3 linked regions of the Homo sapiens genome follow. The protein of the gene in region 2 interacts with the protein of the main gene of each other region in a pairwise test. Each region holds a gene or a part of one and is shown on either strand. Other genes may lie near its edges.

Region 1 (3,751 bases), on a different chromosome or scaffold from region 2:
AGGCAAGAAAATGCAAGCATTCCAGCCGGGCCTGGTGGCTCAAGCCTCTAATCCCAGCACTTTGAGAGGCCGAGGCAGGCAGATCACAAGGTCAGGAGGGCGAGACCATCCTGGCCAACATGGTGAAACCCCGTCTCTACTAAAAATAAAAAAACTAGCTCGGTATGGTGGCACGCGCCTGTAATCCCAGCTACTCAGGAGGCTGAAACAGGAGAATTGCTTGAACCTGGGAGGCAGAGATTGCAGTGAGCCGAGATCATGCCACTGCAGTCCAGCTTGGTGACAGAGCGAGACTGTGTCTCAAAAAAACAACAAACAAACAAAATAACCAGCCAGGCAGAGTGGCTCACGCCTGTAATCCCAGCACTTTGGGGAGACCGAGGTGGGTGGATCACAAGGTCAGGAGATTGAGACCATCCTGGTCAACATGGTGAAACCCCATCTCTACTAAAAATACAAAAAAATTTAGCTGGTTGTGGTGGCACGCGCCTATAGTCCCAGCTACTCAGGAGGCTGAGGCAGGAGAATTGCTTGAACCTGAGAAGTGGAGGTTGCAGTGAGCCAAGATTGTGCCACTGCACTCCAGCCTGGCAACAGTGAGAATCCATCTCAAAAAAAAAAAAAAAAAAAAAAACCTAAAAGCATTCCATATTTAAAAATATATATAAATATATATACACACAGCCCTCTAGACAAATATACAAAAATCACACACGTTATCACTGTACATACAGGTGGACAGACACAAATTCACAAACCCACAGGTGTAACAGCCCAGATACTAAAAGATTCTCCCAAATAGAAGGACCCCAGGTGTTCTGATCTCTTCTCCAGGTTTCTCTGGCTCCTCGGGAATAACCACCACAGTGCCTTATATATCCTTGCTTGCTTTCGTGTCTTCCAGAATGCCAGGATCAAGGGGACAGAGATATTAGCACAGCTTTGTTGACTACACCTATTAGAGGGAGTTACACAGAGGAAAATACTTACTGAATATTAGGACTCACACAGACACATACACAAAAGGGTTTTACAAAAACATCATCATAGACCCACATATACTTGTCCTTCAAAAAGTGAATGTTCTCACTCCCATTCCTGTAGCAGAGATACCCCTTAGTTCCCCAATACCTATCACAAAAGATGGCTCCTTGAGCCCATTCTGACAGTGAAGGAATCTCGAACTTCCTGACCTCCCACAGTACAATAATCATCTCTCTACAAAAGCACAACATGGCAGCTCAAGAATGTGAAAGGACCTGAAATGGGTTGAGTAATAATGTTCCAACCCCTCATACTACCATAAATGTTCCTGGTGAGAGAAGCGAATGTTCCTGGTGAGAGAAGCGAAGGTGTGCATCTCCTGGCTCAGCCACCAGGTCCTCCACTGCATCTCCACAGTAGCCGTCACTTCCACTGAGGCCTCATCTGCCAGCAAACCTTGCTCCAGTCGGCCTCTGGACCCTAGTATCTTCACCGTGGTTTTGGATGCTGCCACCTGACCCATCCCTGCTGTTGGGGGAGGGTGGAGGCCAGAGGCCTAAAGAGTTCCGACCCGAGCGACACAAAGATCACTTCTGGGACCCACCCAGGGAGACTGTTGTTACGAGGGTGGATGGTGACCTGGTTTCCCTCAATGCTGCCACCTCCCTTCTAAAACACACTGACTTGCTAAGAAAAGGGGGGACTGACTCCAACAAAGGACAGACCCGACCCCTATCGTGCCTATGCAATTCAGAAAACGGAGAATTCGGAGGCTCCAGCAAGCAGTTTATTGGGAGTTGAGTTCACCTTGCCTTGTGATGTGAAGCAAGGTAGTTCCATGGCTTGTGAACCCTGACACCAGCACCTCCCATACACAACAGAGCTGGAGCGCTGCAGGGTGGGTCCTTTTCCAAGAAGAGCTAAGTGCTAGTCTTAGCGGGAGGCTAGGAAACCAGTCCTGGAGCAGGATGCATGTGACATGCACTGACGTGAGAAGGCCGGAGCATCATCAGTGCATATGCCGCTGAATATCTCAGGGTAGAATGTGCCAGAAAACAGGGAAAGCAAGTTAGGGGAGGTAAGAATTCTGAGTGTCCTACAGCTAAGACATGGCAGAGTGTGTCTGTGACTCCACTAGCAGTTTTGAGATTATTCTGACTGTGGTGGTTGGTGCAGGGCTGGTAACCGCAGGAGAGTGGATGCTGTGTGGTCAAGGGGTGTGTGTCCCATGATACAGGCTCTGCTTCTTCAGTCTCTCACCTCAGAGCCACCTGCGGTTGCCACAGAGAAATTCAGATGTGAATGTTTAAACAAGTGTCCAAAGTGTAGGTTTGAGATGGGAAATGGAGCTGGAGATGACCTCAAAACAGCCCTGGAATAATGCAATGCTGACAATGTCTGTGAATTAGGATGTGCATAGGCAGATCCCACTTGGGGAAAAACTGTAAGATGCGAACCTTTGTCTTAGAAGTACAGCATTCCCACAGTCTGACCCGAGGACACTGATGGAAACTTAAAAGGCAGATTCTGGGAGTCTTCTCACTTCTCTCCAGTCATGTGTGAGAGCTGAGGGCAGGCACTGCCCTAGAGGGTGTTTCCTAACTTCTGACTGGATGCCACAAAAGGCCTGCTGGGGCCCAAGTCCTTCTTCCCCATTCCTTTAATTCTTCCTACGAAGAATCTCGACAATGGTTGCAGATGTCATTGAAGATGTTCCCATATTGCTTACATTTAAGAAGGTGGCTCTCCAGTGTGGGTGGTTTCATGGTTTTAAAATGAACTGGAGGCCGGGCGCGGTGGCTCACGCCTATAATCCCAGCACTTTGGGAGGCCGAGGAGGGCGGATCACGAGGTCAGGAGATCAAGACTATCCTGGCTAACACGGTGAAACCCCGTCTCCACTAAAAATACAAAAAATGAGCCGGGCGTGGTGGCGGGCGCCTGTAGTCCCAGCTACTCGGGAGGCTGAGGCAGGAGAATGGCGTGAACCCAGGAGGCGGAGCTTGCAGTGAGCTGAGATCGCGCCACTGCACTCCAGCCTGGGCAAGGACTCCGTCTCAAAAAAAAAAAAAAAGAACTGGGGGCCGGGTGTGGTGGCTCACGCCTGTAATCCCAGCACTTTGGGAGGCCAAGGCAGGTGGATTACCTGAGGTCAGGAGTTCAAGACCAGCCTGGCCAACATGGTGAAACCCCGTCTCTACTAAAAATATAAAAATTAGTTGGGCGTGGTGGCATGTGCCTGTAATGCCAGCTACTAGGGGGCCTGAGGCAGGATTGCTTTGACCTGGGAGGCAGAGGTTGCGCCACTTTCACTCCAGCCTAGGCAACAGAGTAAGACTCCAGCTCAAAAAAAAAAAAAAAAAAAAGTAAAACGAACAATTTGGGAGGCCAAGGTGGGTGGATCATTTGAGGTCAAGAGTTTAAGATCAGCCTGGTCAACATGGTGAAACACTGTCTCTACTAAAAATATAAAAATTAGCTGGGCATGGTGGTGGGCACTTGTAATCCCAGCTACTTGGAAGGCTGAGGCAGAAGAATTGCTTGAACCCAGAGGTTACAGTGAGCCAGGATCACACCACTGCACTCCAGCCTGGGGCAACAGAGTGAGACACCATCTTGGGGTGCGGCGGGGAAAAAAAGGTTGGGTGCTGTGGCTCACACCTGTAATCCCAGCACTTTGGGAGGCCGAGGCAGGCAGATCACCTGAGGTCAGGAGTTTGAGACCAGCCTGACCAACATGGAGAAACCCCATCTCTACTAAAATTAC
Region 2 (3,751 bases):
TCTGTCCCCAGTTTTCTTTCTTTGCACATCTACCTGGCTCTTCTGTCCTCCCCTTCCATTTCTTGGCCTCCCTGTCACCTCCTGTCCCTGGTGGGCTCTTTCCTCTTGCCCCTTCAGCCTCCTCCTTCATACTGCATCCCTGTCCCTTTGTTCTCCTGGTCAGTGCCAGGGGTGGGTGATCCAAGTTGAATTCCAAGCCGGATTCCTTTTTCTGGTTCCTCCAAGGATGGCATGGGAAAGCATGAAGCCAATGAGAAGTGACTGGTGGGGCCTCTCTGCACCTATTAAGAGAGACAGATGACAGCACTTCTGTTGCTGCCTGGGACCTGAGCTTGTGGGCCCCAAATCCCTTTTTGCCAACACCCACGTCCCTTTGTCTCTGGGAAGCAGCAAGGCAGATGCCCCACATTCCACCACACCACCAAATAAAGAGGCAGCTTTTGTTACTTCTGTGGGCCTCCGGAAGGTTTAGGGGAGCTGCCCTAGAAAACGGCAGGGACTCTGGGGAGAACTGAGATCAAGCCAAAAGAAAAGTATAAATGGAGAAAAAAAAGGAAGGCCAGGAAGCAGGCCTGGACAGGAGCAAGCAGAGGTGTAAGTGGGGAGGAGAGGAGACGGGGACAGAAAATGTAAGCAAAGGTAGATACAGGAAGGGTGGTCAGTGAAGGGGCTTGCAGAGGAGGAAAGTGGCAGGACACGTGTCACATAGGGAAGAGTGTGGGCATTGATCTGGGATGACCTAGATTCCTGGGCCCAGCTATACCACTTAGAAATTGTGTGATCTTGGGCAAGTCACTTATCTTTCTGAGATGTCATTTCTTATCTGTAAAATGGGACTAATTTATTTATCACCTATTTATGAGGTGCCTTTATACTTGGAGGACCAGCTGTGAATGAGACAGACCACATCTCTGCCCTAATGAAGAGTACATTCTAACGGAGAGAGGCAGAAAATAAACAACACAAGTTCAGATGGCAATAAATGCTATGAACACGATATAATAATATGATACAGAGAGGAGGTGGGATGGGAGTTTATTTTATTTTATTTTGAGACAGAGTCTTACTCTGTTGCCCAGGCTGGAGTGCAATGGCACAATCTCAGCTCACTTCAACCTCTGCCTCCCAGGTTCAAGCGATTCTAGTGCCTCAGCCTCCCGAGTAGCTGAGATTACAGGCATGCGCCACCACACCTGGCTAATTATTGTATTTTTAGTAGAGATGGAGTTTCACCATGTTGGCCAGGCTGGTCTTGAAGGGAGTTTATTTTAGATATGGCAGTTAGGAAAGTCATCTTTGAGAAGATGACATTTGAGCTAAGACCTGAATAATGAAAAGGATCCAGCCATCCAAGATCTGAGGGAGGAGCATACCAGGCAGAAGCAACAGCAACTGCAAAGGCCCAGAGGTGAGAATGAGCTTCATTTGTTTGAGCGACAGAACAGAGGCCACTGTGTTTGCAGCAAAGTGCACGTGGAGGACCCTGGCAAGAGAACGTTCTGAGGCAGGCAGAGGCCAGATTACAGTGGATCTTGTAGGCCAGCCAAGAGGTTTGGCTTTCATGTTAAGTGTGGTAGAAAGCCAGGAGAGGGTCTTAGCCAGGAATGGGATGATACGATCTGCTTTACATTTTTAAAAGAGAACTTGGCCACTAAGTGGAAACACTTAAGATGGAGGGAAGTGACTCAGAACAGTGAGTCCTGTCAGCAAGTTACTGCAATAGTCCAGTCAAGAGATGATGGTCGCTTGAGTTAGGGCTGTAGAAATGGAGATGATTCAGAATATATATATATATATATTCTTTTTTTTTTTTTTTTTGAGACGGAGTCTCGCTCTGTCGCCCAGGCTGGAGTGCAGTGGCGGGATCTCGGCTCACTGCAAGCTCCGCCTCCCGGGTTCACGCCATTCTCCTGCCTCAGCCTCCCAAGTAGCTGGGACTACAGGCGCCCGCCACTACGCCCGGCTAATTTTTTGTATTTTTAGTAGAGACGGGGTTTCACCGTTTTAGCCGGGATGGTCTCGATCTCCTGACCTCGTGATCCGCCCGCCTCGGCCTCCCAAAGTGCTGGGATTACAGGCGTGAGCCACCGCGCCCGGCCCAGAATATATTTTGAAGGTGAAGCCCTCGGGATTTGCTAATGAATTCGATCAGGGGATAACAGAGACATGAAAGATGACTTTGCCTTGAGAAAATTGATGGAAGGTGGTGATGTTTATTGAATTGGGAAAGACTTGGCAAGGGGTAAGTTTTGGGGCTAGGGGAGCCATTTAAAACATGTTTTCCTCTGTTGAGTTTGAAGTAACTGTGGACATCCAAGTGAATATATTGAGGCAGTTGGATATATAAAGGCAGAACCAGGGAGAAAACAGGGCCGGAGATGTAAATTTGGAGTCATTAGCATATAATTGGCATTAGAATCCATGGGAAATAATGGTGCAGTCACATGGAGAGACACCAGAAGAGGAGAAAGGGTCCAGTCCCAGAGACACTCCAGTATTTAGAGGTCCAGTATAGAAGGAGAAATGAACAAAAGAGTAAAGTGAGAGGAACTCCTGGAGCATGTCATGCCCTGTAAGCCAGAGCAGAAAGTGCTTCAAGGAGACAGTGATCCACTGTGTCAGGTTGCTAAGTCAAGTGAGATGGTCTTGGATTTGGCAAGAGAGAGGACCCTGAGACATCTCAGTGCATGGAGGCACCGATTGGATTGGGTTTGGAGAGGAAATGGGAGATGAAGGTGAGTACCGATAACTCCAGTAGTCATTTTGAAGAGAAGCAGAGAAGTAAGGGAAATAGGGTCAAAAGATTATTTCTTTTCTTTTTTCAAAGGTAGGAAATGCTAGATCATGTATAATGAAAGAAAAGATCCAGTACAAAAAAAGGCCTTTGCCTGGAGAAGGAACGTTCCTCCATTCAAACGGGCGAAAAGTCAGAATTGAAGCAGAGATGCAGGCAGGAACTACCTGGGAAAATAGGGTTCTATTTTTTTTTTTTTTGAGACGGAGTCTCGCTGTGTCGCCCAGGCTGGAGTGCAGTGGCGTGATCTCGGCTCACTGCAAGCTCCGCCTCCCGGGTTCACGCCATTCTCCTGCCTCAGCCTCCCGAGTAGCTGAGACTACAGGCGCCCGCCACCACACCCGGCTAATTTTTTGTATTTTTAGTAGAGGCGGGGTTTCACTGTGTTAGCCAGGATGGTCTCGATCTCCTGACCTCATGATCCGCCCGCCTCTGCCTCCCAAAGTGCTGGGATTAAAGGCGTGAGCCACCGCGCCCGGCCGAAAATAGGGTTCCAGAGCGATTCTCTCCTCAGTAGAGTTTTTTGTTTGTTTTGAGACGAAGTCTTGCTCTGTCACCCAGGCTGGAGTGCAGTGGCGAGATCTTGGCCCACTGCAACCTCCTCCTCCTGGGTTGAAGCAATTCTTCTGCCTCAGCTTCGCGAGTAGCTGGGACTACAAATGCCAGCCACCACACCCGGCTAATTTTTGTATATTTAGTAGAGATGGGGTTTCGCCATTTTGGCCAGGCTGGTCTCCAACCCCTGATCTCAAGTGATCCACCAGCCTCAGCCTCCCAAAGTGCTGGGATTAAAGGTGTGAGCCACCGTGTTTGGCCGACAATACCATTTTTTTAGGGCCAGAAGCACCTAAGAGAGAGTTGAACCCTAACATCAAAAGCATATTAGGGAGGTGGAGGTTGGTCTGTTTCTCCAGAACACCCACCCCAGACTCTAGGGCCTTTGTCCTAATGGCCAGC
Region 3 (3,751 bases), on a different chromosome or scaffold from region 2:
AGCTGAGATCGCGCCACTGCACTCCAGCATGGGTGACAGAGCGAGACTCTGTCTCAAAAAATAAAAAAATAAAGTCCTTATGACTGTGTCCCCTACCCCACCCTTCACCTGCAATGCCATTCAAAGTCCAGTTTATGCATTGTCTTTAGTTGTCACATTCCACAGTTTCTTTAGTCTAGAAAGATTCCACAGTCTTTGTCTTTTATAAACATGGTGGTTTTTTTTTTAATAGGAAAGTTATTTTGGAGAAAGATGTTCATTTGGAGTTTGATATATTTCATGTTTAGTTTCAGATTATGTATTGTTGGTAAGGATATTGCACAAGTGATGAGGTTTCCTCTTTATTGCAACATAACAGGGTTCACATGATGTGGTTTGTCCCTTCACTGGTGATCTCAACTGTGTTCACTTGGCCAAGATGATGCCTTTCAGATTTGTCCGCTGTAAAGTTACCTTTTTTAAAAAAACTCAAGTTTCTTATTGGAAGGTACATTATTAGTGGGCATTCTACTAAAGATGAACTTCTAGTTCTCTTCATTTATTCATTTGTTTGTTCAAGTATAAATCTCCCAACAATATGGACTCAGAATTCAGTCTTATGAAGGTAAATGACATGTGGATTAGCAATTTTTTTTCAACTCTATTGAGGTATATTTTACATAAAGCATTCACTCATTTCAGGAGTACAGTGATCTTTAGGAACTTTGTAAAGTGGAGTAACCATCATCATAATTCAGTTTAGTTATTTTTCACCCTCAGTTGGACTCTGTGCCCATTTACAATTAAACCTCATTCTCACCCCAAATCTGGAGCAACCACTAACCTACTTTTCCTCTATGTATACATTTGCCTATTCGGACATTTCATATAAATGGAATCATCTAATCCATGGATTTTGGTGACTGGCTTCTTTCTCTTATGATGTTTCCAAGGTTTGTGCATGTTGTAGCATGGGTTGGTACTTCATTCCTTTTAATTTCCAAATTAGATTCCATTATATGGATATGCCATGATTTTTCTATCCATTTACCCAGAGGAAGGCATTTTGGTTGTGCACAGTTTTGGGGTTAGTATGAATAATGCTGCTGTGATCATTCATAATACATGTGCTTGTTGCTACACAGCCTCCCCAGCCACCATTTCATGTCTCTCTTTTGCTGTCTCTGGCATTTTCCAGGCACAATTCCACCTTCCTTTGTGCTCCATTACTCAAGACACTGAAGACTCCAAAAAGTAGTAGGAAAAATGACCACATTCAAGGTGAGTAGAGCTCACCTCTCTTGCTATTAAAATTCCATCTTATTGCTCATATTGTCATATATTTTTCTCTGTCTTGGGAAGACTCAAGGAGGAAATGGGCATTTGGGACCTGTTGTGTGCCAGTTGCTTCCTTTGTCTCTTTTGTGTTGACTTTGCATTTGGTTTTTGGTTTGGGTTTTGTTTTGTTTTTTACTGTTACATTATGGAGTAGAAAAATTAGTAGGAATGAACAGTGCTCCCACTTCTTCACCTCCTTGCTCTCAAATTAGCCTGATTTTTCTTCTTGTGCTGTTCCTTGTACATTCATAACTGTATTTGTATTGATGATGGAGTTCCTTATGTCAAGAGTGCTCTATACACCAAGATAACATGTCCTTCTGGTTTTCTTCATACTTGTCCATCAGATAGTTAGTCCCCCTTTCTGTGGAGGCCCACATTGCGCATGTTGGCTCCATTTCTCTTAGATGCTCCAGGGACCCTCTGACCCACTTCACCCACCTCCTGAGTCCTCTGGCCCCAGGAATGAGCTATTATTTAAGGTGTCGCAATCAGCGGATCACACACCAAGCTCCTGTGTTTCCGTATTCTGTCCTTCTGTCTCAATCCATGCAGCCAGCTCACATCTGTGGAGGGGTGGCCTGTGTCCCGCTTATCATTCTGTCTTCTTTATAAATCATCAAGCTGCTGTCCAGCCTGCGCCCCCAGGCTGCCATCACAGCACTGGGCCAATTGCCCAGGATATAAGTGCTCCCCCTTTGCCAGTCCAGAGTTCTGTCAAATTGGACCCTGCTGGCTGCACCAATTCCATGGAACAGGTTCACTAGTTACAGACTTGGCGAGTCTACCATGAGAGAGCACACTCATGTATGACAAATTACATAAAGCAGATTTATTACATGTAGGTAGCAAGGGACAACAGAAGCCTATGATCCACTGTGAGCCAGTCCTCCAAGGCTTAAGAAAGCTGCCTAGAGTGGGTGGAGTCACGACTGCACTTGCCCCATTTGCACCATAGCTGAGGCACCCCAAGAGGCAGCCTGTCCCAGGCTATATGCCTCAGGGGTAACATGACTTACTGAGCAGTTCCTCTCTAACTCAAGATATTATCTTTTATGGATTGGACTAGAACCAAAGAAGGCATAAAAAAAAATAAAAAGATGTTATCTTCCCTGGGAAGGACACTGCATAACTAGCACATTTATGGTTATTCTTGAGACCTATAAACAAGAAAGTGGGGAGAATGGATCCAAGGCTACTTTGAAAATAGTTACCTAAAACCTGTTAGTTTGGCAAATACTAAAGAAAAGTGATAGCATCCAGGGTTTGGGTCTGAGAGAGGAGGACAATAAGCCTCATCAAACAAGGTTGAGACTGAATTGCTCATTGTTGCTGGGGCAACTGGGGCAATTGGCAAAATTCATTGAAACCTATATAGGTGTAGCCCAGGATGCACCATTTGAAATCCTAAGGGGTTACTTACAAGGAGACTCAGTAAGTGCACAAAGTAAAAATACAGGAGGTCTTTTTCATGATTGCACTTCTGGTGGAGCTCAGGAAAATCACTGTCAGGATACAGACAGAATGAGTGGGAAATCTATAAGTTGACCTCCACTTCTCCTCTCCGCCTGCTCAATGCTGCTCCTCCCCCAGTAGTCCATGGTCATAGGATTGAGGTTATGTATCCTTGATGTTATAGGAGGCAGTGACCTTCAAGGATGTGGCTGTGTTCTTCACTGAGGAGGAACTGGGGCTACTGGACCCTGCCCAGAGGAAGCTGTACCAAGACGTGATGCTTGAGAACTTCACGAACCTGCTGTCAGTGGGTGAGCACAGGCACCCTCTGTAATGGTACATCAGGCCTCAGGAGTGGCTTTGTATCCTAGAGTATTCAAGTTTGTGTATGCAGTGGGAACTTAAATTTCCAGTAAATTTTACCTTGATATTACCTAGAATGAATTGGTATTAAGCACATGACTTTGCATGTTCACAGGGCATCAACCATTCCACCCTTTCCACTTCCTAAGGGAAGAAAAGTTTTGGATGATGGAGACAGCAACCCAAAGAGAAGGAAATTCAGGTAAGAAGCAAGCAACTGTGTGTCCTTGTACATGACTTTCTTTCCCATTTGTTTTACTTCTGACCATGCCCACTTATATCACCCTGATCTAAATTGCCCAATCTCTTTCCTGGTTTATTACAACCCCTTTCTGGCTGGTGGTCCTGTTCCCTCCCTTCCACCCTGACATCTATTTTCCCCCGAGCAGCCAAAATGATCCTTGGGAAATGCAAGTCAGTTTTCCACTCCTTGGTCCAAAAGCCTTTATGGTTTATTAATGTTATTAAAGTTACAACCTCTTTATTGGCTTTTAGAGACCCTGAGGTTTGTTCTTCATCCCCTGCTGCCTCTTGACTACATCTGTCCTCTCGCCCTTGCATCATCTTTTCCAGCCACGTTGTCCTCCCTGCTGTTACTCTGTCCTGTCATGGACAC

What was found.
Region 1: the proteins of CCDC136 (region 2) and ZNF490 interact in binary tests that used the Homo sapiens proteins (3 or more experiments, as listed by UniProt).
Region 3: the proteins of CCDC136 (region 2) and ZNF230 interact in binary tests that used the Homo sapiens proteins (3 or more experiments, as listed by UniProt).

The regions. Positions count from the first base shown.
Region 1 is NC_000019.10:12,576,203-12,579,953, forward strand, and holds part of ZNF490 (zinc finger protein 490), read right to left. Parts: 3' UTR 1-3,751. UniProt on the Homo sapiens protein: May be involved in transcriptional regulation.
Region 2 is NC_000007.14:128,794,942-128,798,692, forward strand, and holds part of CCDC136 (coiled-coil domain-containing protein 136), read left to right. Parts: intron 1-3,751. UniProt on the Homo sapiens protein: May play a role in acrosome formation in spermatogenesis and in fertilization.
Region 3 is NC_000019.10:44,005,834-44,009,584, forward strand, and holds part of ZNF230 (zinc finger protein 230), read left to right. Parts: intron 1-1,177; 5' UTR 1,178-1,245; coding exon 1,246-1,260; intron 1,261-2,956; coding exon 2,957-3,083; intron 3,084-3,250; coding exon 3,251-3,337; intron 3,338-3,751. UniProt on the Homo sapiens protein: May be involved in transcriptional regulation.